Homo sapiens: one gene and its partners. The protein of the gene in region 2 interacts with the protein of the main gene of each other region in a biochemical or structural test. Each region holds a gene or a part of one and is shown on either strand. Other genes may lie near its edges.

What was found.
Region 1: the proteins of APBA1 (region 2) and TJAP1 interact in a test that uses a peptide from one of them, tested with the Homo sapiens proteins (one study listed by BioGRID).
Region 3: the proteins of APBA1 (region 2) and CNTNAP3 form a complex in vitro, tested with the Homo sapiens proteins (one study listed by BioGRID).
Region 4: the proteins of APBA1 (region 2) and CCS form a complex in vitro, tested with the Homo sapiens proteins (one study listed by BioGRID).

What each region holds. Positions count from the first base shown.
Region 1 is NC_000006.12:43,499,660-43,507,228, reverse strand, and holds the end of TJAP1 (tight junction-associated protein 1), read right to left. Parts: intron 6,486-7,569; coding exon 6,457-6,485; intron 5,704-6,456; coding exon 5,542-5,703; intron 4,947-5,541; coding exon 4,880-4,946; intron 4,642-4,879; coding exon 4,612-4,641; intron 3,829-4,611; coding exon 3,721-3,828; intron 3,607-3,720; coding exon 3,523-3,606; intron 2,642-3,522; coding exon of another isoform or gene 2,621-2,641; exon of another isoform or gene 2,562-2,620; intron 2,469-2,561; coding exon 1,374-2,468; 3' UTR 675-1,373; downstream 1-674. UniProt on the Homo sapiens protein: Plays a role in regulating the structure of the Golgi apparatus.
Region 2 is NC_000009.12:69,660,288-69,669,371, forward strand, and holds part of APBA1 (amyloid-beta A4 precursor protein-binding family A member 1), read right to left. Parts: intron 1-9,084. UniProt on the Homo sapiens protein: Putative function in synaptic vesicle exocytosis by binding to Munc18-1, an essential component of the synaptic vesicle exocytotic machinery. May modulate processing of the amyloid-beta precursor protein (APP) and hence formation of APP-beta.
Region 3 is NC_000009.12:39,284,147-39,293,123, forward strand, and holds the start of CNTNAP3 (contactin-associated protein-like 3 isoform 1 precursor), read right to left. Parts: upstream 4,022-8,977; 5' UTR 3,919-4,021; coding exon 3,834-3,918; intron 1-3,833.
Region 4 is NC_000011.10:66,602,523-66,607,941, reverse strand, and holds the end of CCS (copper chaperone for superoxide dismutase), read right to left. Parts: intron 2,604-5,419; coding exon 2,526-2,603; intron 2,454-2,525; coding exon 2,350-2,453; intron 2,241-2,349; coding exon 2,087-2,240; 3' UTR 1,923-2,086; downstream 1-1,922. UniProt on the Homo sapiens protein: Delivers copper to copper zinc superoxide dismutase (SOD1).

The DNA of each region.
Region 1 (7,569 bases), on a different chromosome or scaffold from region 2:
GGGCCTCTGCACACCATTTCACTTATCTATGTCCCGAGCACCTTGCCCCAGATATCAGGGTCAGGCCCTGGGACTTGGGAGGGAACTGGGGTCAGGGGCTGCATGGGGGCTCTGGCAGCTCCTGGCAGTGTGGTGGGAAGGAAGCTCTGGAAGCTGTGACTGAGCAACAGCCTTGGGGGGCACTTGAACCCACGGCAATGCCTTTGAACTTGGCAGCTCTGGCTGCAACCCGCTGGCTCGGAAAAGATTTTATGAACTCCACAACCTGTCGTGTGGCTGTAGTCACTTGGGGCCGGCAGTAGGGGAGGAATTGGAACTACCAGTAAGCACCACTAGGGGGCAGTAGCATCGCACAGCCCAAGCTCTAAGCTGCGTGACCTGGTCCAGGATCTCAAAATAGGCCTGGCCAGGCCTAGAACCCAGGCCTCTGAGGCAACACCTTACACTAGCCCCATAAAGATATGGTCCCTGCCTCCGAGGGAAGACTCAGGAACCCTGCTAAGGTTACTTAAGGTGCCCCCTTTCCCGCTCCCTGATGCTCTGTGCCTAGGGAAACCCTAGGCAGAGTGGGGCGAGGGGGAGTCACTAGCCGACTAGGATGAGACTAGGACTGGGAATACTTATGAATGGGGAGAAAAGTGGGAGAGGGGAGGTCATTAAGACAAGTTAGGCCATACCAGTAAAATAGTTTTATTTGATTTTAAAATAGTCATCAATGTGAAAATTTCTCAAAGCTTAAGAGTAACAGTCTAGAGCCAAGGTTGGGAGTGGGGGCCAGGCCTCACACAGAGCCCAGCTTGAGGCCCCTGAGCCCCACCCTCCTTTCCAGAGGGAGGGAGGAGACAGCTGAGGGGGCCCTGAATCAGTCCTCTCCCTCGTCCCCAAGGCCAGCTGTGCCAGGCCCCTGGAGGGCAACAGCTCATGCGGAGGACTGGGGGGGGAAGCAAACAGGTAGGAAACGGAAATGAGGTTAACAATTACACCATCACCCCCAAAAAAAAACAAAATAACAAAACTTGTGACTATGAAAGGATGGAAGATGAATACTGATAAACTCCTCAGCTCCCCAGAAAAGCCCAGTCTGGGCTGGGTTGGGCTGATTGGAGGAAAGGTCTTGAGACCCAACTGCATGTTACCTCTGAAGAATAAATATTCTAAGAAAAAGGGAAAACCATGAGGCAAGCTGCTGCAGTCAGTCAACGCAGCTGACAGGCCTGGCATGGCCCACAACCTGACCCCATCCACACAGGAAACAGCTGTGCGGGTCTGGATAGAGGAGAGGTCAAGGGCTTGGACTGGGGACCCTGAGCTGCCAAGGTGTGGGGACTCCTTGCAGTCCTGGTGCAGCAATGGCAGGAAGGCCAGCAGGGGCCCTAGTTGAGCAGGTTGCCCTGCTCCTGGGCCTGGGTCAGGCTGTCCTTGCGGTGCAGGTGGTGAACCCCCATCCTCTTGGGGCTGCGCTGGGGGCGACTGGAGCTGGGGAGTGGCCAGGCCCTGCCCTCGGTGTGGGAAGTGCCTGGCCCCTCCTCTGTGCCCCTGTTAATGGGCAGCAGGCTCTGGCGCTCTTCCTCAGGACTGATAGGCAGGTTCAGCTCTTCTTCCTCCCTGGGAAAGCCAGAGTCAGGTTCTGTGGGTAGCAAAAGCTCACTCTCTTCGGGTCGGGCAGAAGGTGCCTGGACCACCTCATCTCTGTCAGCGGGGCTATGGGCAAAATGGCGCTGCAGCTCAGGGAGGGCATCGCGTCCAAAGGCTGTGCGCTGGGCCACAGCAGCAGGTGGTGGAGTACGGTCCACAAATGCCCGCTGCCAGCTGACCAGCAGGTCCTCTTCAGAGCTGGCAGAGCTAGCTGGGGCACTGAGTGTTAGGGGTGCTGGGCTGGGCTGGTGGTGGGGTGAGGCCTGGGCTGAGGCAGGGGTGCTGGGCACTGGGCTGGGGCGGGCCCGCTCACTCCCCTCCTCTACCAGGCTCAGGGAAATGGCCTGGCGGGTAGCGTAAGTGCAGTTGGGCAGGGGGCTGTTGCGGGGGATCCGAACCTTATCCTCAGAGAACTCTATTACCCTGCGGCCAGGATACAGTGGGTGTGGTGGAGACGGGGTTGGGTAGGGGTTCAGCTTCTCAAAGGCTGGCAGGGGCAGCTCTTCCTCCGGGGAGCCCCTGGCAGTACCCAGAGAGTGGCACTCCCCATTGGGTTGTGGGGTGGGGCTGCCAGGGGCCGGGGGACTGGCTGGATCACCTGGGACACCCTCACTCATGTCCACATGCACAAAGACATCCTCAGCCAAGGGGCGCCCGGCGCTGCCTGACTGGGCTGAATTGAGCAGTAGAGACTCCGGCTTCTCTAACACTCGGGCAATGACTGAGGTAGGCACCACAGCCCCTGGGGCTAGGCTGGGAGCAGGACCTGGGCTGGCGGCCTCTTGACCACTGTGCAAATGTTTCCGAACCATGTCCTGTAGCTCACAGGGCAGCTGAGGTAAAAGAGCAGGAAAGAGAGACATCAATGATCGCAGCCAAAGATAACTTGACTCATGGCGAAAGTAATGGCTCCCACCTTTAAGTACCTCTGTGTACTCAGCACTCTGCTATCTCCTGTTCTTACAGCATGCCAGTGTGTATACCCTCACTTCACAGACACATAGGCCTGGAGAGGGGAAGACAACTCAAAGCTTTGGTTAACTTGGCCAAGATTTAAACCCGGATCTGCTGCTGCAGCCAGCATGTTCTCAAACTTCTATCTCCCAGCTTCTGCCCAAACCATACTTAAGTTTGGAGAATCTGCATAGACCAGTAGCCTTAGAAATACCTCTACTTCTGGGCCGGGCACAGTGGCTCATGCCTGTAATCCCAGCACTTTGGGAGGCCGAGGCGGGTGGATCACGAGGTCAGGAGATCGAGACCATCCTGGCTAACACGATGAAACCCCATCTCTACTAAAAAGACAAAAAAATTAGCCAGGCGTGGTGGTGGGCGCCTATAATTCCAGCTACTTGGGAGGCTGAAGCAGGAGAATTGCTTGAAGCCGGGAGGCGGAGGTTGCAGTGAGCCGAGATTGTGCCACTGCACTCCAGCCTAGGTGACAGAGCAAGACTCCGTCTCAAAAAAAAAAAAAAAAAGAAATACCTCTACTTCTTCTACTTCTGCAGGCCACATAAACCTTGGGCCTGAAGCTGTGGGGTCTAGAGTTTACCCCTTGGGGTAACATGATCAGATGGGCCTAATCCTCTCTTAGTACTCTTTGGGCAGATAGCTCTGACTACCCTCTCCTTCCTGCCCAGGATCTTCTCTCTCTGTCTCTGTTACAGAAACCAACAGGGCTGGCCCCCCAGAACTAGTGATGGGCCCTGGACAGTACACGGGACACCAACCAGTGGCAGAGTTGACTGGCTTGAGAGGTGACATGGAGGCAAGAGGAGGGCAAAGTGGGAAGAGGAGGACAGAGAGAGGTGCAGAAACTGGAGTTAGAGGAGTCCTACAGTGGCCGGAATGGTCTATGTGGGCAGGGAGGGGGTGAGTTCTACTCACATCGGCAAACTTGTGGTTTCGGAAGTGGGACTTGTTGCACTTGAGGAGCTGTACAGCCAGGTTGCAGTCCAGCCGGTACCGCTCCTACAGACACAGACCTGTTTCAGAGCCCAGCCCAGCCCTCTCCAAGGAAGCAGGGCCGAGCCAGGACAAAGCTAGCCCCAGGTGAGGAAGGCCCGAGTAGTGAAGCGCACATACATTGAGCTCTTCCAGCTTGTTGATGGTGTTCTTGGCATCCAGCAGCTTGTTGGTCAGCTCCACAATCTCCCAGTCCAGCGTCTTCCTATCCATCTCAGCCTTCTTGATCTGAAGCACAGACTTGAGGTTAACCCAGCCCACACTCTAGCCAGCCCTTCCTCTCCCTCCACCTCCTCCCATCCTGGAGACACAAGAGGCCACAGGTGCTAGGGCAGCCAAGGCGGACAGAGCAGAGACAAATGACGGACAGACAGAAGGAGACTGGGCATCTCTCCCGCTCTCTGGACTGGCTGTGGGGTGGGGGCTTTCTTAGCATGACTTCCTGCCACCTGGGCCCAGGACACAGGCAGTATAAGAGCTGTCCATCCCCTGAGGTTCCAGGGGCTCTGGGCACCAGGCAAGGCAGCTGGTACCTCAACGGCAGTAACTGCAAACCAGGGGGCTGAAGCCTCCTATGTGTGCAGCTGTTTCCAGCATCAGGCTAGGAGAGGGAAGAGGAAGCAGGGCGCGGTGGCAGCCAGGGCACCTTGTTGAGCAGGGAGCAAGCTGCAGGCTCAAAAGTAGCCTTCTGATCTCCAGTTCAGGGACTGGATCTGCAGCCTCCCCTCCCCACTCCCACAGCCTGGGCTTGCTGCCACTGGAGCCAAGAAGCTTTGGGTGTTCAGTGGAGACATCAATCAGTACCTCTACCAGAGCCAAGGGCAGAGCAGGCTAGGCTCCCCACCTCTCTCCTGGGAGGGAGGCATTGACAGTTAAACGGGCCTCATACAGGGAAGAGAAAGGAGCGGGTGTACTCAAGGGGCACAGGGTAACAGCCAGGGCCCACAATCCCAGATCTCAGCTGAGGAGAAGGCCAGGGCAAGGGAGAAGACACACAAACTCAGACGCAACTGCAAAAATCCAGCTGTGGCTAAGAGAGGCCTGAGAGGAGAGTGCAGCAGCAACGGTGGCAGCATGAGGGGGAGACGAGGAAAGAAGAGAAACAGTGTGAGCATTAAGACAGTCTTGACTTGCAGAGCACACTGCAGTACCCCCACCACTGCCCCATCCCACCATCTCCCTCAAGCCCCAGGGCAGAGTGGCATTCCCCTGGCAAATCCTGGCCCCCTGCTATGCTATGAGCACAGTGCCCACCAAGCTGCCCTCCCAGACAGATTACCAGTGTGTGCAGCTTGTCCTCCAACTCCTGGTTGGTCCGCTGGGAAGCCGTGTAGCTGTTCTGCAGCCTGAAAAGGGATAATACAAGGCACATCCCTGGGTCAAGATCCTGTTCTTCAGGCTCTGTTCAGCCTCCCCGATAGGGGATCTTGAACATGTCATTCTCCCTCAAGAACTTCAGTTTTCTAATAGGAATTAGATGATCTCTAAGGCATCTTCCAGCTAACCTCCTATGAAAGGAGAGAGAGAGAGAGAGAGAGAGAGAGAGAGAGAGTGTGTGTGTGTGTGTGTGTGTGTGTGTGTCCCCGCATTCCCACACCTGCAGAACTTATCCAGTTTTCTAATAAGAATTAGATGATCTCTAAGGCATCTTCCAGCTAACCTCCTATGAAAGGAGAGAGAGAGAGAGAGAGAGAGAGAGAGTGTGTGTGTGTGTGTGTGTGTGTGTGTGTGTGTGTGGCCCCGCATTCCCACACCTGCAGAACTTATCCAGTTTTTTAATAGGAATTAGATGATCTCTAAGGCATCTTCCAGCTAACCTCCTATGAAAGGAGAGAGACAGAGACACAGAGAGAGAGAGAGACAGAGAGAGTGTGTGTGTGTGTGTGTGTGTGTGTGTGTGTGTGTGTGTGTGTGTGTGTGTCTGGCCCCTCATTCCCACACCTGCGGAACTTATCCTTAAATTTGTCCAGCTCCTCGCGGCTCTGGCCCAGCTCCAGCTCCAGGCAGTCCTGCCCAATTTCCAGCTCACGTTCCAGGGCCTCAGTGCGTCTGGTGGCGGAGGCCAGGCGCCGGCGAAGCTCTTCATTCTCCTCCTGTAAGAGCCTGGCAGGGTGTTGTGGGATCAAGGGCAGAGGGGTATGAGAGATAGAAGGGCATGCCCTGGAGCTCCAGAGTGGGCTCAGGAAGGAAGGGATGACATGAGGACAGGCAAACAGGACAGGGAAACTCCTGGAGTCTTAGTCTGAGTCTAAGGCAGCATATTTCATAGGCCTGCTGGCCCTGGGAACACAGCCTGGGTTGGAGGGTCAGGGGAGGAAGAGGGGATGGTAGGGGACAGTCCAGCCTCCCTTCACTATCGGAGAATAGAAATAAAGAATTGGGGGTAGGGATATGGCTCCCAGCCTGTCTCTGGTTACAGCCCATGTCAGCTGGCCACCAAGCCCCCAGCTCCAGTTTCCCCACTGCACAATCAGGCTTCTCCATTATTCATCTCTTGGAAATCCAGCCCAGCACTGCCCTCCTCTCCAGAGGCCTCATGTGGCTAAAGGGCTGTAAGGGTGGCAGCTGGTACAGGAGCCAGGAGCTGGGGAAGGGCTCCTTAGCAAGAAGAGCAGGGCCCTCAGAGCCATTCGCCTCCTGATTCTACGCTCTCTTGAAGCCCATGGAACAATAAAATCCCATTTTCCAGAAAAAATATCCACAACATCAACACTCCTCCCAGAGTCCCTAAAACAACCCATCCCAACCTTTATTTCTACCTAATCCAAGGGAAAGTCCAACTGTACCAACAGTCTAGCCTGGAGCTAAGAGGGACAGAGTTGAGGCAGGGCAGTATCTCAGGTAGCAGATACTCACTTCATCCTTTCTGCATCAGTCAGGGGTTCCTAGGCAAAAAAGAGAGGCTTGAGGCTCAGCTCTGGACCACTGGACCCCCGGCTGGCTCACCCTCCAAATAGCCACAAGAAGGCTCAGGTGTGAAGCCCAAAGACTCTTATAGCAGAAGAGGGCTGCAGGGCTCTCTACGGATGGAAGCAATTCAGTAATGCTGGGACAAGCCTCGACTACCCTCTCCCATGCCAACCAGAAGATTCAAGAACCTCTTCCAACCTTCACCCTTAATCCAATCCTAAAGCCATTTTCAAATAAGTCCTGGCACCCAAGCTACCTCTCCCCAGGGGCAGACAGCCTCTCAGCTGTTCACTCGGCTCCTGGTGGGTCCTGTATCCACAGAGGTATGGCAGAGACCTTCCAGAAAAGTCAGGCTGAACTATACACACGAGTTCTGAGCTCTGACAAAGCCCTCAGCCTTGAGATGAAGACAAAGGCAGAATCAGGCTCTTGCAGAGGCTCAGGAAGAACAAGTGCATGGGAGAAGAGGACTAATCCTGACTAAGGGGAGGAAGTGCCTTGTCTGTCTTTTAACCTCCTGCCCCATCTTCCCCAAACCCCTATGGCAGTCATGGCTCAAGAGTCAAGTTCAGCCAACCACAAAGCAGAGTAGGCCCCTGCTATCGCGAGAGGGAAACATCAAGGGGCCTATTCTATGTGGAACTGACTGCTTCAGAAGAGCAGCCTCTGGCAGAAAATGGAGGTAGGTGGCTTCCTTTGTCCATTGACTCTGACAACTGGATTTCACCCTATTCTACTGCATACTGATTATACAGCCTTCACCTCACCGAGCCTTAGTTCCCTCATTTATAAAACTGAGGTAATGCTCGCTGGGTAGCACCTAGCATAATAGCTGGCATCTTAATTTAATGTTCCCTGAACTGAAATGAGCAAGTCATGGCTTTTCTACCTTGAATCTGACCAAAGCAGGCTACAGTATGCCTGATGCTCAGCACATGCTGCGTCTCAGGTTCTTTAAATGTGCTCCACGCACTGTGACCAGATGGAGATATGGCTGCAAGGGCAGTAAACCACTGTGGCCCTCGTTTCTGCCTGTGAGTGAAGTTAATGGGGCAGGAG
Region 2 (9,084 bases):
TGAGGTCCTCTTTATTTATAGTCAAATGCATGGAGTTCTGGCCCCCATGTTAAATTTTGGGGAAAGCATATCACCAAGGGCTGCTGGCAGCTGAGGCATGAAACACTTCAGCCGGTTCAGAGTTCCCTATAGTGGCAGGATACCCAAGGGAGCAAAGCTAAACATCTGGCCACTTTAGTTATCATCTAACAAGCGCTTTTCATGCTGAAATGTTGGTTTTGTTTGTCTGTTTGCTTTTCCTCTCTGTCCTCCCTGACATTCTTTTCCTTTTATGGTTAATAACAGAGGGGGGAAATACTTTAAGGCAAGAATCTCAAAGCCTTATATTTAATCACAAAATCTTAACTCAATCATTCCCAAAGCTTTACTAGAGAATAGGTGGAATTTCCTTTAAAGATGAAAAAACAGGAAACATACAAAAGCAACAGATTTTTAATCCTGATTTACTCAATAAATATTTCTTGGGCATATAGAATATACATGTGGGGGGCATACTATACATATGCTATTATCTTTCTCAGTGTTAAGGGAGATGAAAAAATGAGTGTGTGGGTGGGTGCATATTTTGAAAGGACAAGAGAGATGGAAAAGATGAGCATGAGCTGCTGGAATCCAGAGTGGTACAAAGCACTGTGAGAGTTTAGATCAGGGGTCAGTAAACTGAGGTCCGTGGGACAAATCCATCCCACTGCCTGTTTGTGTACTGCCTTGGAGCTGAGAATGTTTTTTATGTTTTTAGATGGTTGCAAAAAGTTAAATGAGAAATCAACATTTTGTGAAGCAAAAATGATATGAAATTTGAATTTTAGCATCCATAAACAAACTTTGGTTGAAATACAGTCACACTAATAGGTTTACATATTGTGTACAGTTGCTTTTGCACTACAAGGGCAGAGTGGAGGAGTTGTGGCAGAGACCATATGGCCCACAAAACCTATTTACTACTAGCCCTAAACAGAGAAAGTTTGTCAACTTCTGGTTTAGAGGAAAGAGACACTAGCTATTAGAACTAGGTAGGGAGTCACTTTCGTTCAATGTCATGATGAAGGAAGTGAGACATCTACCTTACTTTTCTGTACCCTTTCATATTTTATTTGACCCCAGCGGCCCTGTGCAGGAAGAGATGGGAAGGGCAGGTTTCATCATTTCCCCTTTTGTAGCTGGAGAAGCTGAGGCTCAGACCAACCTGGAGACTTGTTCACTGTTGATGGCTAATTATGGCAGCACTGTATTCCAGCTCATTCTGAGTCCTTGCCACCCCACAGGGCCAAGAATGGAGAGATGTCGGTGCAACAGTACTATGGTCTGAATGTGGTTCATCCCCACAAAATTCATGTTGACATTTAATCCCCAATGTGGCAGTATTGGGAGGTGCATGGGTCATGGGGGGTGAATCTCTTATGAACAGATGAATGTCCTCCTGCAGTGATGAATGAGTTCTCACTCTTGCAAGGATGGAATAGTTTCCTAGACAGTGGATTGTTAAAAAGAATCTGGCTTCCTTGGTTTTTCTCTCCTTTCCTCTTTCACCATGTTATCTCTTCGCACACACTCGCTGTCTTTCCACTTTCCACTATGAGTGGAAGCAGCATGAGACCCTTACCAGATGCAGCTGCCTGGTCTTAAACTCTCCAGCCACCAGAATTGTGAGCCAAATAAACTTCTTTTCTTTGTAAGTTACCCAGCCTCAGGTACTCTGTTATAGCAACACTGAATGGACTAAGACAAACAGTAACACACACACACACACACACACACACACACACACAGACATCCCAAGTAGGATGAAGGCATCATAAACAAGAGAGTCAAGATGGGGCAGTGGGGATGGGAAGCTACTGCTGGGCCCAGAGGACAGAATAGACTCCAGGACCAGCAACTGTCTGGGCCCATTCCTGTGCCTAGACCTGAGGCAAATCCCCTTTGTCCTGTTTTGTAGCCACTGAGGAACCTCTGAGAACCTCAAAGTCCAATCTGCAATATAAGTTCTCTCCTGATGTGGTTATGAAGAGTAAATTAGGTCATTATGAGAAGTAAATGAGTTAGCTGTGTACAGTACTTAGCGCAATGCCTGACACTTTGTAACTTGTTTTTAGTCACTGGATGGGGAATCTGCTGAGCTTTTAAAAAAGGAATTTATGTGTACTTTGATAGCTAGCCTGCCATAAAGAACACAATCATACCTGAACATAAGATTAGGTTAAGCTTTCATATGACCTAATACTATGGAAACATTTCATCTGTAGAACAAATTCTAGCTCCTTTAGGAGAGAACTCTTCCAGGTACTAGCTCAGGGAAAAATGATTCTTATATTTTCAAGTTATTTGGAAGGGAAGTGGGCGTAGAAACTATTTTCACATCTGGGAAGAAATAATATTAGGTTAAAATTTAGAATTAAGTAATTTAACTAAACATCCAGAACTCTAGAGGCTAAGAGACAGCAGCTAGGAAGAGGGGCAGGAAGAGTGAAGGACAGGAAAGAATCGTGAGGAACCAGCTCAGCAAGGAGGTTGTGGCCCAGTGACTTGACACGGTCCCCACAACCCAAGAAAGCCACAGATCTAAGAACAAATCTATTCTTCTTACTCCACTTTCCCTTTTCCACACTAATGTAATTTCTTCTTTTGGAAACAAAATGTCTACTCAAAAATAAAGTTTCTCTCTGTGATTACTGCATCATTTGTCCATACCACCAAATATCCAAATATGCTAACAATTCAAAAAACGAAAAAACAACTTTTGACATGAAATTATTTCATACTATAAGAAAATAAACACTCTTCTGATAAATGTAATACAATACAGCAGTGTTTTCTAAACTGCATATTAGGGTTCACCAATGCAGAGATTACTTCAGTGGGTTGGCAAACATACAGAACAGAAGAGAATAGGATAGGAAGCATCAGGGTGGATTACACATAATAAAGGACAAGTATTGTTGAGTGAAACTTGTTTCAGTGATGTATGTGTGTGTGTATATGTGTTTACACACATTCATCTATGTTGCTAGCCTATCATCTAAATTGTGTTCTCACCAGGAATCATGGCCAAAAGTGTGTAAAAGCCACTGCAACAGAATGCAACCCACTTTAGTAAAGTCCAGTATAAAAGTCCAAATTCACTGAATAGCCAATGTAGGGGGTAATTATTCTTGTTAAGTGGAATTTCCTTAAATGACTCTAAGCTCGTCCTCTGCTTTTAAAATATGCTACAATTTACAAGAAAAAGGAATTTATACATACTTTGGCAATTATCCTTCTTTAAAATAAAGTGTGCCTGTTAATAAATGCAGAATTGATCTCGAGATACAAAATTTATCAATAGTCAGAAACATAACGATTACATTATTTGGAATGGTGGCCAATTAATTCCATTAGGAAATAAATCATTGCTGTATTTGCTGTATTTTTCATACAAATTGTATGCTAATTAATCCACATGGAACAGAAGAGGAGGCTGAAAAGGAAACTTAGTGTGTAGGGATTGGTTTTGCCACCATACCTTGACAACCTCCTGTGATCACTTTACATATACAAAAAGATGAGATTCTGTCCTCCAAAATGTGTATTTCAGAAAAGAGAAAGTTGCCTTATGTATAAATGCTTACAAAGTCTCCCATATTGTGGGGTATTCTCTTAATTACCTTCTTCTGAATGCCAAAAACCCTGTTACCTCCAAGATAACAGAAATTGAAAGCCATGTAATTCACTAATGCTGGATGTGACGGCAACTGATTTTAAAGAGAGAAACCATGAAAAAACATATTACCTGGTAAGACTGCAGATTTCATGAAAAGGAGTTGTGTGTTTCAGAGGTTACTTAAGAACTATTTGGAGAAGATAGCCGGAAATAAACTCAATCAACACAAGATAGGGATACTTCTGAAGGCTATGCAATTGAAAGAAGATAAATGACTGAATGAATACAGAGTAAAGGAGGCCATGATTTTAACACCAATTGAAGTAAATATTCCTGGGAAGGAGCTTTACAATTGCTTGTCTTGGATGTCTTTACACAAGACATACAGAAGTGCTGGGTTGCAGAGATCATAAATATACTCCTTTAGGAAGAAAGGATAAAACAAACGTTCTTACATTAAGTGAATGAGCACACAGGGTTTGGAATAAAGTTTGTGGTGGTAGCATCATACAGAAACTCAAGAAGTACTATATCTCAAAAAAGTTAGATAGAAATGAACATGACAAAAGTGGCCTAATCATGACAAAGACTCTAAAGTCAAAAAAGTATGTGAAGTATTTGAATAAATGATTTCATAAAATGTGAGAATGGAAGGATGTCATATTTCTAAATTAATAATTTTATATAATGTGACTTCAATTATATGAAAGTAAACTAATAAATTAAACATAAGTAGATACTTCACTCTTTGCCTATATTCCTAGAATATGCATATTCAAGTTGACATAAAGTCTTTTTATAAACGCTCTTGTTGGAAAACTGAGGGCCACCCTATAACAGAGCGTATCTTACACATGAGCATATATAGTACTCTGCACCTCAGATAACTGAGGGTGGCCAATAGTTGGCTTGTGAGTGAACAGAACTGCAGGCAGTTGTCACAATACATTAAAATCCCTAAATTAAAATAACTGCCATCAAACCAATTATTATCTGTTAAAAATTCTTTATGATACCTCTGTGCTGTGTTAAACAGGGGTCCCATGTCCACTTCTGAGTTCAGCTATAGCTGTATCGACAGTCTCCAAATACACTGACAGTTTCCCACTTCCACCTGGCTCTGCCTCTCTGCTTCTCTGCTCAAGAGCTTTCTTTGGTGTCTCTGGAGCTTGCTCAGGCTAATCTTAGCAGCCCTAAAGTACTGAAGATTTAATATCCCTAGGGAAATGGTGGATAAAGACCCCACTTTCTCCACTGCTTGGTGGACAATCCTAATGTGCAGTCTATATAATGCCAGCAGAGCCAAGCCTCAGCTGCCCACCGTGGTAACCTGCTCATTAACTCACCTCTTAATGGGCTTTCTTCCCTCTCCTGTGTCATTTTCTCCATTCTCTCACTTGTGCTTCTTGAGGTTGTCTCTCAGATAAACTATTCTGAACTCAAGTCCTCATCTCAGGGTCTGCATGCATAAACTGCTTTAGCATCCTATGGCAATTCTGTGTCCTGTTTGAAAAACAGCTACCTATCTGCAGAAATCAAGGTAAACGAGCTTTACCCTCATTCTTTACACCTGAGTTACTTAAATCTTTGGAAATTTCTCATCAATTCCTCTCCGTAAGTATTTGATAAACCCTTACTAATGCAGAGAGTCAGTCTGTGTTATAGAGTATACCCAGATGAACAAAACAAAGTTCTAGCCTCAAGGATCTTATACTTGAGAATGGAACATGAAACAAGGAAGAAGAAAAGAGAGCAATATTTAAAGAAGATTCAGGACACAGAAGAGATGTAAGTTCCAAGGAGCAGAACTACTTCCAGCTGACTAGTATTTCATCACTACCCAGACAGAATCACGCTTTGTTTTCTGATGTGATCTCGGCTCACTGCAACCTCTGCCTCCCAGGTTCAAGCAATTCTCCTGCCTCAGCCTCCCAAATAGCTGGGACTACAAGCATGCGCCACCATGCCCGGCTAATTCTTGTATTTTTAGTAGAGACAGCATTTCGCCATGTTGGCCAGGCTGCTCTCGAACTCCTGACCTCAAGTGATCTGCCTGCCTCAGCCTCCCAAAGTGCTGGGATTACAGGCATGATTGTTTTCTAACTTAAATACATTTGATTGAGGATATTCATCTTTATATAAACCCAGTACTGATTCATAGGTCAGCCCAAATACAGTAGATGGTAATACAGCCTTATGGGCAAACAATTGAAAATGAAAGGCAAAGCATTTTATTGTGAATTCCCTAAGTGACTGCTCCAGGTAAACCAAGGAAACCAATAAGGTTTCCCTGCTGTCCCTTGAGGATGCCAAACATGTTCTTATCCAGCCTTTTCATTTTTGATATCCTCTCTGCCTAGAAGACCCTTCCCCCAAATATCTGCAGGGCTCACTACTTCACATCTTTCAGCTCTTTCTGCTTAAGGTCTTCCCTGACCATACTATATAAACTAATGTCACCCCCCACCCACCCACTATCATCAGTCCATTGCTCTCTCTCTTTTATTCTTCGTCATAGCACTTACCACCTGGCATATTATGTAATTACTTATTTATTTATTTTTAATCTCCTTCCACTAAAAGTTCTGTGATATTAAGGACATGCCTCCCCCCACCCCATATTCCTTGCACCTAGAATAGTTTCTGGCCCAGAGAAAGTGTTCAATGAGTGTATGTTGAAGGAATGAATAAATTTCATCATTAAAACCTCAAAATCACCACTCATTACAGTTGAAGTTCCATAAACTCACCTGGAATCATGACATAATCCCATAACTCAAGGATCTAAAGGGTTCACAATCATTTTGTGAAAAATGTGGGGTTTTTAAAAATAAAGCTTCAATGTATATATCAGGTATGAATAAATAGTTTTAATGCTATCATAAACTTGCACAGGCCATAAAAGGCAACTCATTCGATGTCCATTGTGTAAGAATGAAATCCTGAAATTTAAAATTTTAGATACTGTTGCTAGCTTACTTAAAAAAAGTTTATTCATGTATTCATGTGACAAATGTATATTGAATGCATATGATGGGTATGGTATTGGGCGAGGTGCTATATTTGATTTTTCTTTTGAAAACTGACTTTACATGTACGTCACTGTAAAACCATATTCTACCATTACAGATAGAAAAAGCTCATCCTTTAAAAAAACACTTACATTTTTCCCCATTGTTTTACTATAAACTTCTTAAAATTTAGCTCAGATCTCTGAGAGAGAATATTTACAGGAAATACAAGTGGAGTCTTTTATTTGGATAATTTTAAAGGTAAACATTCTCCTCTTTTTACTGCATTTAAGGGAATGAAGAACCACTGTATTTAGTGAGATTAAATGCTCACTATACAAAAATTACTTAAGTAGTTGTCAAACTCCAATTATATAGCGTTAATTGGTTTCACTACAAATTCCTGCTTTTCAAACACATGAGGTCCTCATGGTTGGGTAATGATCTTTTATTCACTCCTAATTGACTCACTGCTCTGTTTCCACAATGCCCACAAGTCTTTGTCATTCTACTCCTGGCTTCAACCTGCCCACCTCTCTTTGACCTCACTTAAAAGACTGTGGCCAAATTCCTTTCTTTCCACCTCAAAATTCCTATGCTTCTGTCTCAAAAGAATCCTTCCTTTGCTTTCATCTAGTATCCTCCCATCTTCTTGAAGACTTAATTCCCTCAATTGAGCCTCTCCCTTACATTTTCAATCTCTTTTTCCCTCAATGGATTGTTCTCCTCAGCTTATAAAGCAGGCTCAAGTCTTCCTATACTAAAAATACCACTTTCCCTCTACTACACCATTGTTGTGATATATCATACTCTCTCTCCTTCTCTTTTATCTCCCAACTTATTGAAAATGAAGTCTGTTTTCACTGCTTTCCATTTCCCTTCCCCCACGCCTCCCTTCAACCCTTGCCCCTGGCTGCCACTTCCACCTACCACAAAGACAATCAAGGAAATCCAAGAGTCAAATCCAATGGCTTTGCCTTGGTTGCACCGTCACCCATGGGGTGTGCTGTGTGAGTGACAGGGGCTCTCCTCACCCCTTCCAGCTTCCATGACACTGTACCACTTCACTTCCATCATTTTTCTCCAATTGCCCCTTGTTTAACGTGGTTCCTGTCCTCTTCTTTCTCTTTCCCCTCCAACATACAGACATCCCTCAAGGATCCTATCCTTACTTTTGCTTCTTCTTTCTTCATTTTCTTTATCAGTGATTCCTGGGATATGAAAATCGCTCCTAAGCAGATGACCTACAAATCTCCTGGTAGCTCTAACCTCCCTCTGTATTCTAGTCCCTTAACTTGGACAAGCCTGTCATGCTCAAAAAGAAACTTCTCTCCTCTTCCTTATCCTCTGTTATATCTTCTTTCTGAAAATGACCCAACTGCTCTCTCAGCTAAGCCTGACAATGATCTTTTGGCCTCCCTTTTCCCTTCCTCACTTTCCAGTGACTGTTCAAGCTCCTCAGATAATTCCCGCACACCACCTCTTAGGTGTGTTCCCTTCTTGCCTCCCACTGCCTCTTTCCATCTTTCCCCTACTTTGACAATAGAGTCTATCTGGTCTCCCTCCTGCCAGCCTTTTCCCATGTCATTCCATCCAACATAATACTACAAAAGTATTGCCCCAAAGCACAGTTCTGATACTGTCAATCTTTCTCCTCACAAATCTTCTATAGTTCCCCAGTCCTTACTGAACAAAATCCACACTCCTTAGCTTGGCGTACAAGTTGCTCCACCACCTTGAACAAACCTCTCTTTCTTGCTTTATCCCTCATTACATCTCTTGGCATTCCTAGCGCTTCAGCCAAAGCACACCATTTTTTTGTTTCCTGTGTAGGCATACACCTTCCACTGCCAGGCCTGTGCTACACTGTTCCTCCCCCAAGCATGCCCTTCCTTCTCTGCCAACCCAAATGCCACCTTAATCACAGCTCAAATGCTATATCCCATGTAACCTTCCCTAATTCTTCCATCAGAAGTCACTTTGTACCCTGTGAACTCCCACAGCTCTGCAGGAATACTGCTTTTTCAGCACTTAATCATTTTTCACTATTTTTACAGTTAGTAACATATTTCCTCTTTTCTCCTTCTAGATCATGATCCACCTCTGGCCAGGATCTAAGACTTAGCATTCTTTGAACCTCCAACCCTTCTCAACATTCCCTGTCCCCTATCCAAAGGTACAGTGGATCTGAGATGCGGGAGGCAATTAACAAATGTTTGCAAATTAATTATTGTAACCCAGAGAGTTAACTTCAGATTTTACGGCTTGAAATTCTCTCAATTTTAGCAACAATTACTTCTTCTTTCTAGGATAAAAGTCCTATCTCCCCAAGGTACTACAGTTAATTCCTTTTGGCCCCAGAGGTCAATTTTCAAATATCTCTTACCCCTAAGTCTTCCGAAACAAACAAACACAATAACAACAAAACAAAAC
Region 3 (8,977 bases), about 30 Mb from region 2:
CAAGTTGCACCAATTCCCAATCATGTCCTTTATAACATAAGCATTTAATGCAGAGTAGTATTTAGTTGCCTTGTTTTCTTAGCCTCCGTCAATCTGGAATGCCTCCTTCCTCACTCCACTCAACCTCTGACAACTTGCTATAGGTCACCACCAGTGCTGTCTCCTGTCTCTCCAGGTCCCCACCCTTGCTACACTGTGGATGCTTTCCTTACCCTGCTGGTTTCTGAATGCTCTGCCACGGTCCTGGGCCTCCCCACTACCCAGCATGGATGCCTAAGCTGAACTGAATGACCTTGGACTGAATTGTTCAAAAAGAGAAGGGGAGAGGAAGAGGAAGAAGAACGCCAAGTAATTTGATTTTTCTTTTTTCATGATCAAACCAATGTCTTGGAATTGATTATCACTTCCATGGGCTACTTATGCTCCGTACTGTTTGTATAGAGTTTGGTGAAAATGAATAAAGGCAACTGAACTACATTTTTTGGTTTTTTTTTTGAGACAGAGTCTCACTCTGTCACCCAGGCTGGAGTGCAGTGGCACGATCTCAGCTCACTGCCTCCTCACAGGCACCTGCCACCATGCCCTGAAATTTTTTCATATTTTTAGTAGAGACGGGGTTTCACCGTGTTGTCCAGCCTGGTTTCGAACTCCCGACCTCAACTGATCCACCCACCTCAGCCTCCCAAAGTGCTGGGATTACAGGTGTGAGCCACCGCGCCTGGCCTGAACTCCATTTTTTATAGAGTACCATTTGACACTAAAATTAAGAGTCTGTTACTCATCTGCAGAATCTCTCTTTAAATGGTATTACTAAAAGGTCCAAAATGAAACATCTGTAAAAATAATTATTCCTACACTCTGTGAGATCTCTTTCCTGACACATTTCACATCTAAGTGAGTTTCCTAACTAACCCACACACACTCTATAGTAGGCTTACCCTTCTTTCCCCAGGCTGGCTGGCGAACTTGCAAAACATAACCATTTAGGGGAAAAAATTGAGGCAATTAAAATTAAAAGTGTTTTAGGCTAAGTAATGAATAAATTAACCCACTGAAAAGTTACATCAAAGGCTATTACTCAGCATTTTACCAGTTACAGGAATTTCTGCAAAATCTGCCCAGCCATTTGTTTGTGTATCCCTGGGATCAGTGCCCAGCGTTCAATCTTTCTCTTGATGCTTCCTGCTGTTTTCAGGGACTCAATGAGAGCAGTAAGTGACCTTTCACTCACTGCAAGTCTATGGGCACTGAAGTTAGGAAAATATTTCCCTTCATGCAGAATCTTCCTAACAAAGCTTTCCCATGTATTTGTCGGGTCAAATAACATTCAGATAAACTGCACATAATCCCCAAAATGCCAAATGTTTAGAAAGCTTTTTTTTTTTGAGACAGAGTTTTGTGTTTTCCTCTTGTTGCCCAGGCTGGAGTGCTATGGTGGGATCTCGGCTCACTGCAACCTCCATCTCCCAGGTTCAAGCGATTCTCCTGCCTCAGCCTCCCGAGAAGCTGGGATTACAGATGCCTGCCACCACGCCCGGCTAATTTTTGTATTTTTAGTAGAGACAGGGTTTCACCATGGTGGCCAAGCTGGTCTCCAACTCCTGACCTCAGGTGATCCACCCACCTCGGCCTCCCAAAGTGCTGGGATTACAGACGCGAGCCACTGTGCCCGGCCTATAGAGCTCTTCCCATGAAGAGCCATTTCATGCCATCATCAACAGGTTGCCTTCGTGGGTGGCCAATGTGCTTCTCGAAAACCAGCTGTGAATAACGTGAGCAACTCATGGTGTCTACATGAGAAGGAAACTTTTAGATGTCCTTATTGACTTTCTTCTTGGTATTGAAGGTGGTATAATTATTACAGTTACATAGTTTTATCTGGAAGAATTACTTGATCTAAAAGGTAATTTAAAATTAGTAAAATTTATTAGATATGAGGATACTAAGTTTCATCAACGAAAGAAGACTGAAAACACCCACAGTAGTAGTATTGAAATTTCACGTGTCACTCAGCAACTCGCGAGAGTCCCGTCTGGTGCTGAGTCCATTTGGAATATCTGTCCCTGCCCTCCCCTCCTCCAAAAAGAATGTTCACTATAAACGAGAAGAGCTTAATTTCTATGGGCTTTGTAATCCTTCCACTGGATTCCAAGCAAAATAACTACCAATACAACTAATCCTGAGAATAAAAAGTAATCACAACTATGCAACAAAAACAGGAAAGGTGGTGGCAGGGTCTCACTCAGATTTCATTGCTTTGCTTTTCTCCAGGAAGGTCTTTTTGAAGCCCTGTTTATTCAATAGTAAGAGTGACCTCTAGTGACTTTTTTTGTTGTTGTATTTTGCCAGTTGATTGGTCAATTACTCTAGCATGCCTTTCTATAAGTAGCTCATTTATATGTTTGTTTAAGCCAAACGGCAGTTTCCATTACAAGACCCAAGGATTTTGATTTAAGTAACAACGTTTTATTCACAAAGCCTTCTCACAAAAGCAGATTAAAGTTGAATCTGAAACACGGTACAGCATCTGACCAAAGGAATCCGGAGCTTGTTTTTTGGAAGGGCACACCAAGTGTAGGATTAACTGAGGCGCAACTGAATCATGATGCACAGTGAGTTCATGAACCCATGTGCGTGCCCTGTGTGTGAAGAACCAACCCACCCTTGAGCCCGCGGGCAGAACAGCACTGAGCTACGGCAAACTTTTCATGACAGCTTAGGAGAACTGCTGAAAGCTACCCTTGGTTATCCTGCAATAATCTAAATTTCCAAACATGGCCACTGGCGTTTATTGGAACTTATTTCGAAAGAGATTTTGGTAGGAGAGGGCTGAGGCTGACAGCGGGGAGATGCCACTGAAAGAAAAATAAAAGTGATTTGAGAAGGAAGAGGAAGACATTTTAAAAATTCTAATCTCATGGTTTGATTAATCAAGAAAGAAAGACAACTCTCTGCTAGAGATTTACTCCAAGCCAAAAAAAAAATGTGCAATGTTGTGTAAACATTTTTATGTGTGATAAAATATGGGTACATTATGTTTTGCTCATCTGTCTGGAATATCATCATTACATTAGAATCATAGCCCATTCTAGAAATAAAGGCTTCCTAGGTGTTTACCAAATTAAGGAAAATAAAAAACAGGGAACCTGATGGCAAATTAAATAATGTAAAATATTAGCATCCAGAGAGGAATCATTTTCAAGATCACCTAAATGACTGGCTGAGTTTTGTCTTTAAGCAAGAACTTTCTACTATGAGAAACGAAGCCCCTGACAGGGGTGTTCAAGTGTTATTCCCTTAGTAGTTAGGACAGGTTATTAATTTAGTTTCACCTACAGGCGCTCTGTCCCTATACTGCATGGAAGTTAATTAGCATTTTAACTCTGAAGCTGCCAAGGTCGGCAAAACTGTAAGCTGCTAACATCTAAGTTGATGCAGTATGATGTAATGTCTGCCAGTTTTTTCCCTGTTAGACTTAATTCCTACAAAATATTACAATCCTAAAAAGGAATAAATGACAGCATTTGCACGCTAATCTCTTATTAAGATGCTTTTCAGGTTTTACAGAAACGTCCACTTTCTCAATGAATATTCAAGTACATCGATTAAAAAGTCAAAACATGCATGGTATATCTTAGACTCCCCCACAAGAGGAAAGTCTATTGTAAACAAAATCGTCTTTTTCGGGTTGCAATTCCAAATTTTTTTTAAGGTTCTTCATGTTCAGGAGCATGTTCTGCAATTCCACTTCCAAATATTACCGATAATAAAAAAAAAAAAACAAAGTTTTCCAGACAGCCTAGCGCAAGTTTTAAACCATTTGCTGTACTTACGTGGATTTCCTGCTCCCACGGGGCTCCAAGTCTGAGTGGGGAGAAGCAGCAGCACCTTGAGGACGGCCCAGGCCACTGAAGCCATGCTCACTTCAGCCAGGCGCCCTGAGACCCGGGCACGGCGACGGCCGCTCTGCGTCGCTCCTGCTCTCACTCCCGTCCCCTGCGCGGCTCTGACGCTGCTCTGCCTCCCCTGTCCAGTCTCTAGCTCTCTTCCTCACGCACCAGCAGCCTCCCTCGGCGCTGCAGACCCTCCCGCCAAGCCGCGCCCGGCCCCAGCTGCGTCTCCGAGGTCGGCCCCGCGGACTCGCGCCGCAGCTTTCTGGAGCGCTCGGGGCCGCGCGGCGCCACCCCAGGCACGGAGGCGGCAGGTTCAGGCGCGTCCCGGACACTAGGCGCGGGAGGCGGCCGGCAGCAACGCGAGTCAAGAAGCGAGCGGGAGGGACGCCCCAGCTCCGCCTGGCGCTCTCCTCCCGTTATACCGGCAGCTTCCTCCGTCCCTCTCTCCCACCGGGGCGGGGCGGCCGCGGTGCACGGACTCGCGCCAAAGACCGCGCCGTCAGCCTCCGCCTGCAGGTGGAGAACGCCAGGCTTTATCACTGCGCTGTTCACCCAACGCAGGGGCTGCACCCAGGAAAATGCTGTCCTGTTTGAGTTCAAATAGGGAAGATGGGGCAGAAATAACTCTGCGGCGTGTACTTGGGCAGACGCGCGCACACTTTGATTTTGCTAGGAATTCTGACTTGTAGAGAACCAAGCTGGGAAACCGGGCCAGGAGCAGGGAGAGGCCGGTGAGCCTGGGTTGTGCGAGTGCAAGCCTTTATTTAAAGTTTTAATATTTTGTCTATCATGGGTTTTTTTTTCTTTGCGATTACATTCAATTTTAAAACTATTTCATTCATTCAGGATTAGCGTTACTTAACAGTTGCTCCTGAGACTAGTGCGTTAGTCCCTTCACCCTAGTCCTGGCCTTGGTGGAAGTCTAAAATTTACGTTTTATTCCAGCTTTCTGTCCAAAAGAGCAACCCCTGCAAGTGTAGGATGAGGAGCTCAGTCCAGCAGCAGCTAACACTGCACTCCTTGCGCGCCTACTGTGTGCTAGAGGGAGGGGCGGAGGCAGGGGGCGGGGGGGGGGGTCTTTCTCTTTTTCTCTTCCTCTGCTTCTCAAATTCACAGTAGGGGCAAAGATTGACAAACTCACTCACATTACCACCACCGCGAGTTTCCAAAAAAGAAAAAAGAAAGAAAGATACTTTTTTAGATGGTATCTCTAAGAAATAGTGTATTAATCTTCCCTTTAGAAAGACAACTTTGAAAGGCTTTTTCATTAAAATGAATTCAAATGTAATAGATGTAAAATGTAAAATGAATTCAAATGTAATAGATGAAGAATCTTACAAAGTCATTCTTGAATTATTAATTGGGTTCACTTAAACTACTTTTGCACAAGAACTCTGTAAATAGCACGTCTTTTATTACAGAAAAAATTATAAATCTAAAGTTTTGATTGACAGATCAGTTGCCTTCAGTGAGACAGAAAGAGAGAAAATGGAAATCATTTTCTAAATTGGACCTAGAGTAAAACAACAAATGTCAATCTATTATTATACCAATTTGTCAGGCATCAGATGGAGTCTTTAAAAATGTGAACTTGGCCGGGTGCAGTGGCTCATGCCTGTAATCTCAGCACTTTGGGAGGCGGAGGAGGCCAAGAGGTCAGGAGATGGAGCCCATCCTGGCCAACACGGTGAAACCCTGTCTCTATTAAAATACAAAAAATTAACCGGGCGTGGTGGTGCCTGCCTGTAGTCCCAGCTACTCGGGAGGCTGAGGCAGGAGAATTGCTTGAACCCGGGAGGCAGAGGTTGCAGCAAGCCAACATTGCACCCTGCACTCCAGCTTGGCGACAGAGCCAGACTCCGTCTCAAGACAAAAAAAAAAAAAAGTGAACTTGGGTGTTCAAAGTGTTAGGCTTAATGGAGAAAGGCCAAGAAACTTCTACGGTGGTAGACATTTGCAATTAAAACAAAATGGCTTCATTAAACTGTAAAATCACTAGCGTAGTGAGGGTGCATGCATTTTTTACAACATTGGAGGAATATATTTATGAATATTATTCCCAATACATAAAATATACATTTTACACACTTATAGGTACACTCAAAATTTGTTCCAAATTGTTCATGTCTAGTAAATGTATATACACTATTTTATATGGTTAAGCCAATAAGCATCAGCATTTTCTTCTAAGACAGGAGGCTTGTAATTGTTTTGATTCCCCTGCTTTTGACTTAAAACTTATTTAGGTTTATTCTACTTAAGTTGTTTGGTTAGGGGACTTGAAGTCCTTAAACATAAATGTGTGTCTTGAAATGCATTTTATGTGGCTATAATTGCTGCTATATGGTTATTATTTAAATCAGCATAGACACTTGCTGTGGTGATAATGCTGGCAATGAACTTTGCAGACTAAGAGTAGTGAGGCTCTAAAAATTACTTTGCCTAGTAGAGAAGCATCCGTCACAATCATCACACACTACACACTTACTGAACAAATGAAGACATGAATTCGAGATGGCCGATGTAACTAGAACACTGGATGTCCCAGAAAAAATATCGAATATCACAAATATAAATGTTTTATGTGTTGCTGCTTTATTTCCTTTCTTCCCTACTTTCCATGATAATGCAATTTAAACTTTGAAACTTCTTACCTTCTATTTAACCTTAACATGGATAATAAATACAATTATATTTTTTATTTCAATCTGGATAATGGTTGTATGATTCAACCAGAATAAGAAAGGAATAAGATCTACTTTGCAATAGCACATATTTAGGAAGTGAGTATATTTATATTGGAACAAATGATGATACTGAGGTGTGTTTGATGACTAGCTTCTGGATTATAAGAATGTAAATGTTTGTTAAGACAGACTCTTTTGAAATTTGTTCTTGAATATTTTGAATTACAAAAGGAACATTTTTAAAAGAATTGTATAAAGAAAATGTTAATAATTGCCACTACCATCACCCCAACCCCACTGAGGTAACCAATGATACAAAACAGGCTGACAGGCTGGTATGTATCCTTATGTATCCTTGTTTTGGCTCTTCTTCTTCTTTTTTTTTTTTGAGACAGAGTCTCGCTCTGTCGCCTAGACTGGAGTGCAGTAGTGGTGTGATCTTCGCTCACTGCAACCTCTGCCTCCCAGGTTCAAGCAATTCTTGTGCCTCAGCCTCCTGAGAAGCTGGGAGAACAAGTGAGTGCCACCACACCCGGCTAAGTTTTTGTATTTTTGGTAGGGACAAGGTTTTTCCATGTTGCCCAGGCTGGTCTCGAACTTCCTGAGCTCAAGTGATCCACCCGCCTTGGCCTCCCAAAGTCTTGAGATTACAGGCGTGAGCCATCACACCCGGCCTTGGCTCTTATATATAAACACATACAACCTGTACATAGAGTTGTGCTTATTTTGTTTCAATAAGGTTTTACCTTGTACTTTATACTCTCATCCTGCAATTTTATCATCTCTCTTTGTAGTATACCGTGTGCATTGCAGTCTAAGCTAGAACTTAGTTTTCAGTTCTAGAAAATAGAGTGAGAATACAAAAATATAACATTTGCCTGCCAATCTAATAGCATTTTAATTCCTAAATAGATCTACTTTCACAAATATGCTACTTCTCAAAGAATTATTTTTCTTATGATATTTTTCTAAGCAATGCAATGTGATATTAGTCAGATTTTTAAAATGCACTACTGCATTAGTCAAGGCCCAGAAAGAAAGCATGATTTGCTCAGATAGTTTAAAGGGACAGGCTGAAAAGAAAAGTGAAGGGACCCACCAGGTGACATTGTGGCAACCAAAGACAAGCACTAGCAGAAAGCCTTTACTACCTACAGCAGAGGCGCAGAGGGAGGAACGGTTGCTGCCAGATCCCCAGAAGGCAGCAGCCGGGGAACACAAAGGTCTGGCAGGAGCCACAGTCATAGAAGTAAAAGAATTTCTTGTCAGAACCTGGAAACAGGAGTGAGTAGGGAAGAAACTTTTTGAGCTCTGACTTCTGAAACCTTACTGTTTCTGTGGGTGTCTCTCATTAGCCAAAACCAACTGGAAGTCAGCTGGGAGGGGAGCAGGGTGACACTCGAGCAGGAAGGGTGACACTCGGGCAGGAAGGGTGACACTGGGGCTGGAAGAGTAGAGGGTGGTTCTGAGGACCTCCACAAAGAATGGCCAGCACATCCTAGAACACTGACACTTACCAAATTTTTAAAAAAAGTTTATTTTTGTTTTGTGCATTCATGTTCTTTAATGAATGATTTATCAAGTAATGGCTTGGAATAGAAATCTAAAGCTTTTATTTTTTAAATTGTGAACCGAAGTAATCGTACTTGCTAGAAATTAAACCAGAGCTTTGAGGTCAAATAGTTTACTCTTTCTTCTGTTTATATTAACAGGGAAGATTAATTGTGCCGAATATCGTAGTTTTGAATGGAGCTTTTTATTAACTTCAACATCAGGAAATCACCAGAGTCCACCTACCTTTCCTTATTTTTCACAGAAATAGAAAGATTGATGTTCTCATAGAGCAAAAAAGATGAGGTCTCACTTCTTGTGGCCTTCTGACATCCATCAATATTTTAGGAAAACAATTCTCACATTTCAGGGCCAATTGGGAATTAAGTTGAGCTCAAATACAAAGGGAAATATTTTTTATTAAAACTTTTTTTGTGCGAAATGAATTATAAATTTTATAAATTTTTTTGTGAAATGAATCAGCTAGCCTAAAATTTAATCCTTCCAAACTACAGTAGGTTAAAAAAAACAAGTGAATGGTAAACAAGTTGAAATTTTCTTTCCAGTTTCTTATCACTGGCTAATTGGGAAGAATTGAAAAGTCAGAAGAGGAGAAAATTATAATCAATGCCTACTCCATTAAAAAATTGCTTAACTGTTTTATTGAAATTGATTCTATAGAGAGCCCCTGATTGCATATTTGATAAGGAACATTAATGCTAATACATGAAATACCCTATGTGCTCACGTATGAAAGAAACATTCTTGGCTGGGTGCGGTGGCTCATGCCTGTAATCCCAGAACTTTGGGAGGCCGAGGTGGGCGGATCACGAGGTCAGGAAATCG
Region 4 (5,419 bases), on a different chromosome or scaffold from region 2:
CAATTCTCCTGTCTCAGCCTCATAAGTAGATGGGATTTCAGGCACTGTAATCCCACTACACCTGGCTAACTTTTGTATTTTTAGTAGAGATGGGGTTTCGCTATGTTGGCCAGGCTGGTCTCAAACTCCTGACCTCAAGTGATCCACCCACCTTGGCCTCCCAAAGTGCTGGTATTACAGGCGTGAGTCACTGCATCCACCCTGCAGTGAGTCTTGATTGCACCACTGCACTCCAGCCTGGGCAACAGAGTGAAACTCTGTCTCAAAAAAAGGAAAAAAAAAAAAAAGAGGCTAATAGAGTCGTGTCATGGTGAACCGTTTAGGCTTAAAAAGGTTAAAACCCAGGCATCATTCCAGAATGGAGGTGAGAGGATGTCAGGGGTTAGCTGTGGGCAGAATCCAGGATGAATTTCTGCAATGACTTGGAAGTGGGGAAAGACAGCCTGAGTCTGGGCTTAAAAGGGTTTGGCTCCCAGCAACCACAGGGAGCTGGAAAAGAACCAGCATAGGTTTGGCAAGAAAGAGCAGAGTCCAAGGGTTGGGGCTAGAGGTGGAACCCACCCACAGCCTTGAAAGGGAAAACAGACAGGGACTGGGGAATGGGATCCGAGCCAGGGGCTCTGCCTCGAAGCCAAGGACAACTAACTGCGAAACCACCCACCCAGTTCCAAGCAGGCAGTGTAGGGACAACGTTTGTAGTCTGCCAGCTTGGGGCAAAGTTTGTAGTCTGCCAGCTTACCCTGTCATAAAAGCAGCTTTGTCAAGGATGAGCAAGGCACCCCATGGGGATGGGGGTACAGGGAAATAATAGACGAGTAGGGAGGCTCTGAACCCGAGGCCCCACAAACTGTACCCTGGTTAGCAGCTCATCCAACCATAGGAAAGGGGAGCTTGGCTAGGGCTGCCTCCGAGGGTCCCACGCAGCCTCAGAATCATAGCTGCTGCTCCCTTAACTTTATATGACAGGCTGTGTGCCAAGCACTTCACTTATGTTAATTGATAATTTTTACTTATGACTGAAAGGAATAAAGTCAGATTTTTGTTTGTTTGTTTTTGGTTTTGTTTTTTTTTTGAGATGGAGTCTTGCTCTGTTGCCCAGGCTGGAATGCAGTGGCGTGATCATGGTTCACTGCAGCCTCAACCTCCCAGGCTGAAGCAATCCTCCCACCTCAGCCTCCCAAATAGCTGGGACCACAAGCATGCACCATCACACCCAGCTAATTAAATTTTTTTTTTTTGTAGAGACAGGGTCTTACTCTGTTCCCCCAGCTGGTCTCAAACTCCTGGGCTCAAGAGATCCTCCCGCCTTGGCCTTCCGAAGTGCTGGGATTACAGGTGTGAGCTACCGTGCCCAGCCTCAAGCCAGATTATTTTAACAGGGGGATGCATTAGGAGGATTCGGGAGCATCTCTTCAATCCCAGGCAGGAGGCAGCTGGCCTCACGAAAGGCTCAGAGAGGGGACTCCAGAGTGACTGGGATTCTCCAGCAACTCTTAGATTCTCCCTGCCTCATTTTTCCTCCTTAGCCGACTGGCTTTTTCTGATGCTCAGTCAATAAGGCAGGGAGAAGAGGGCCACCAAAACTTCCCATATTCCCATGTTATGGGTCCAACCACAGGAAAAAACTAAAGCTGGATCTGCCCTGATTTCTCAGGGAAAGCATGGGCCACCATGGGTCAGGTGTCCATTTTGGTTCCAATCAGCCATAGTGAGGGGTTGGGGGAGGCCACAAACAGAAATTTGACTGTAGTGGCTCTTCATTATGGCTCCAAGGAGGAAGATGGGGACTTCAGTGTGTGTGTAGGTTTGAATTCAGGTTTGTTTGGCTCCAATGCTAAGGGGTGGCCCTGATACAAAGGAAAGAAGCAGAGCTATGTTCACCAAGCCCATAAGGGGCATGGAGACAAGCACAAAACACCAAGTCCCAAACGAAAATAAAACTTTCATTTGCCAAGGGAACACCACAGCAGCTCCTGCCCTGTACTGAGCTCTCCAAAGACTGGGCAGGCAAAGTCCCTCTGGCCCCCTCTGGAAGTGGAAAGTGCTCGCCCTGGAGGACAGCAACAGAGCCAAGGTGAGGTCCTGCTCAAAGGTGGGCAGGGGGCTGCGCTGACTCCTTTCGGCCCTTGCCAGCGATGGGCCGGCCTCGCTCCTCCCAGATGGTGAGGCCATCGCAAGAGCAGATCTGCTTGGGGTTCTGGAAAAGGCCAGCGGAGCGTGCAATGATGCCACAGGCCAACCTGCAGAAGAATGTGTGGTCAGGGGTGGGTACCTGTTTGGCCCCCACCCCTGGGTTCCTCATGCACCATCCGCAGAGCACAGCCTCCTACAGGGGCCGACACCACTCACCTCTCCCCGGAGTTCCCTGTGATCTTGGATAAGGGATGGCCTCCCCGGCCCAGGTCATCTTCTCCCTCATCAATAATCAGGCTGCGGCCAATCACATCCCACACCTTTGAGGGGAGACGACAGCTTCAGATGATGGACCCTGTTAGGAAGGGTGCCCACCTTCTTTTCCACCTTACCTTCAGCTGCTCATCCTCCATTCTGAAGATGGCGCGGCCGTCAGCATCAGCACGGACATTGCCCAGGTCTCCGCGGTGCTGGAATGAGATCCAGTGTGTGTATAGGGGATGTGTGCCACGTGGTGCCAAGCTGCTATCTTCTGATTTCCTGATTCCGACGCCTCTTCCTGCTTCCCTAAAGTACCCATTTCCTCCTGTGGGTACCAGTCTCGTAGGATCTGAGCTCCCCAAGGACTGGGCAGGCAAGGTCCTCTTGGCCCTGTCTGGAAGTGGAAAGTGGTCCAGGAAGTCCCGGACCATCTGAACACTCCCTCCCTGGAACTGAAATCCTGGGCAGGATGACAGTGGGCTGAAAAGAGCCAGTGGAAGTTTCCCCTGCCTGTGCAGTCATTCCCATTGGATCAGACTGTTTTTCCGGCGAGGCAATTGCCCAGCTCTGCTTCTCAGCCTCCAGTTAGCTCAGTTGTGCAGCCTCCTGATGGCTCTGTGAGCCCTTGGCTGTCTTCAATTCCTATAGGCTTAAGTTGGCCAAGCTTGGCTTCCCTGACCATCATAGGCAGCCAGTGTCATTTCCCTGACTCCCAGATTCCAGGAACAGAAGGAAATGCAAGGGGCAAAGGGCCTGTCCTAGCCCCTCGAAGCTGGCTCTGCCCTCCTTCTCCTTTGACGGTAATAAAAATTGTCATAACACACCTATGAGCACCTCCTAGGTCAGACACACTACCCAACATGGCAGGGAGTATGCAGGTCACCATCCTCAAGGGACTCAGAACATGGTGGGGGCCCAGATACAGAACAGACTAGGGGTGATGACACACAGGGTGAATACAACAGTTGGTGTGTTTTGGGGTGACAAGGCCTTACTAGTGAGCCACAGAAACCCACATCTGTGCAAATAAATTGTCCCCAACCTGACATTTTGGGCAGAAACAAGTGCCTGTGCCAGTACAGGTGGGCTCCCATGACCTTGCTGCTGAGTAACCAGGCATCTCACTGTGCCACCAACTGATGGGCAGGAAGAAGTGGCAGTTCTGCTTTATCTCGTTTTCCAGAGGGATATCTGCTGCCTGCACCTGGTACTTTTTTTTACGCCCTGCGTTGGAGATTTGAACAGTAGAAAGATCAAGAAGGGGGAGGGGATACAGAGCCCTGAAGAGCGGTTTTTTTTGCTTGTTTTGTTTTGTTTTGATACAAAGTCTCATTGCAATGCCCAGGCTGGAATGCAATGGTGTGATCTCGGCTCACTGCAGTCTCTGCTTCCCGGGTTCAAGCAATTCTCCTGCCTCAGCCTCCTAAGTAGCTGAGATTACAGGCACGCGCCACTACGCCTGGCTAGTTTTTGTATTTCTTTTAATTAATTAATTTATTTATTTATTTATTTATTTATTGAGACAGAGTCTCACTCTGTTGCCCAGGCTGGAGTGCAGTGGTGCGATCTGGGCTCACTGCAACCTCCCCACCCCCCAGGTTCAAGCAATTCTCCTGTCTCAGCTTCCCGAGTAGCTGTGACTACAGAGCACGCCACCATACCTGGCCAACTTTTGTTTTGTTTTGTTTTGTTTTGTTTTGTTGAGATGGAGTCTTGCTCTGTCGCCCAGGCTGGAGTGCAGTGGCGCGACCTCGGCTCACTGCAAGCTCCGCCTCCCAGGTTCACGCTATTCTCCTGCCTCAACCTCCCAAGTAGCTGGGACTACAGGCGCCCGCCACCACGCCTGGCTAATTTTTTGTATTTTTAGTAGAGACGGGGTTTCACAATGTTAACCAGGATGGTCTCGATCTCCTGACCTTGTGATCTGCCCGCCTCGGCCTCCCAAAGTGCTGGGATTACAGGCATGAGCCACTGTGCCCGGCCCAACTTTTGTATTTTTAATAGAGACAGGGTTTCACCATGTTGGTCAAGCTGATCTCAAACTCCTGACCTCAAGTGACCCATCCGCCTCAGCCTCCCAAAGTGCTGGGATTACAGGCATGAGCCATTGCACCTGGCCTAATTTTTGTATTTTTAGTAGAGACAGGGTTTCACCATATTGGCCAGCCTGGTCTCGAACTCCTGAACTCAAGTGATCCGTCTGCCTCGGCCTCCCAAAGTGCTAGGGTTGCAGGCGTGAGCCACTGTGCCCGGCTGGAGGAGCGGCCTCAAGGCAGGGGGCAGCCTGGACAGTGTGGCTGGAGGCATGACCCAGCAGGAGTTCAGGGAAAGGCAGCCTTTCCAGGCTGTTTCCTCAGCACACAGGCAGGGGCAATAGGCAGGGGGAGTGGGGTATTGAATGTCCACATCAAGAAGCTAGGCCCAGCTTGTACTCTCAGGCACTGGGAGCCAAGACAAGTTTCAGGCAGGGGCATGGCCTGGTTACTCCAGGCTTCAGAACAATCCTTCTAGTGCAGTCTATGAAAAGTAAAGACTGGAGCAGGGTGAGGAGAGAACAGAAGGGAGCTTAGAGATCAGTTAGGAGATGTGCAAGGGACAACCAGGCTTGAATGCAAATTCCCACATGGAATTCTTTTCCACCTGGGAAAAGCAGATGCTAAAACCCAACAGCAACTTGCCAGTCACCGTGGCCTTGGCTGGTCAGCTCCTGCTCAGTTCTTCCTTGTCTAAGTTAAGGGATTGGGTGAGGTACAGCTGCTGATGCCAGCCCCTTCTGATTCCCTGCCCCACCTGGGGCCCAGGAAGAAAACACAGGTCACAAGACAGGCTCCTGCCCTTCAGAAACACTCCCTGCCATTCCATGCCTTGAGGGCTTTGCCCGGGCAGTTTCTTTTGCTGGGCTTGCCAATCCCACTCTTACCCTCTTCAATGCCTACTTCCTGCCCATCATCTTTCAAGGCTGCATGAGGCGAATGGCCTCTATGATGTGCCTCCCTTGAGTGTGGGCTGGACCTAGTGTCACTTC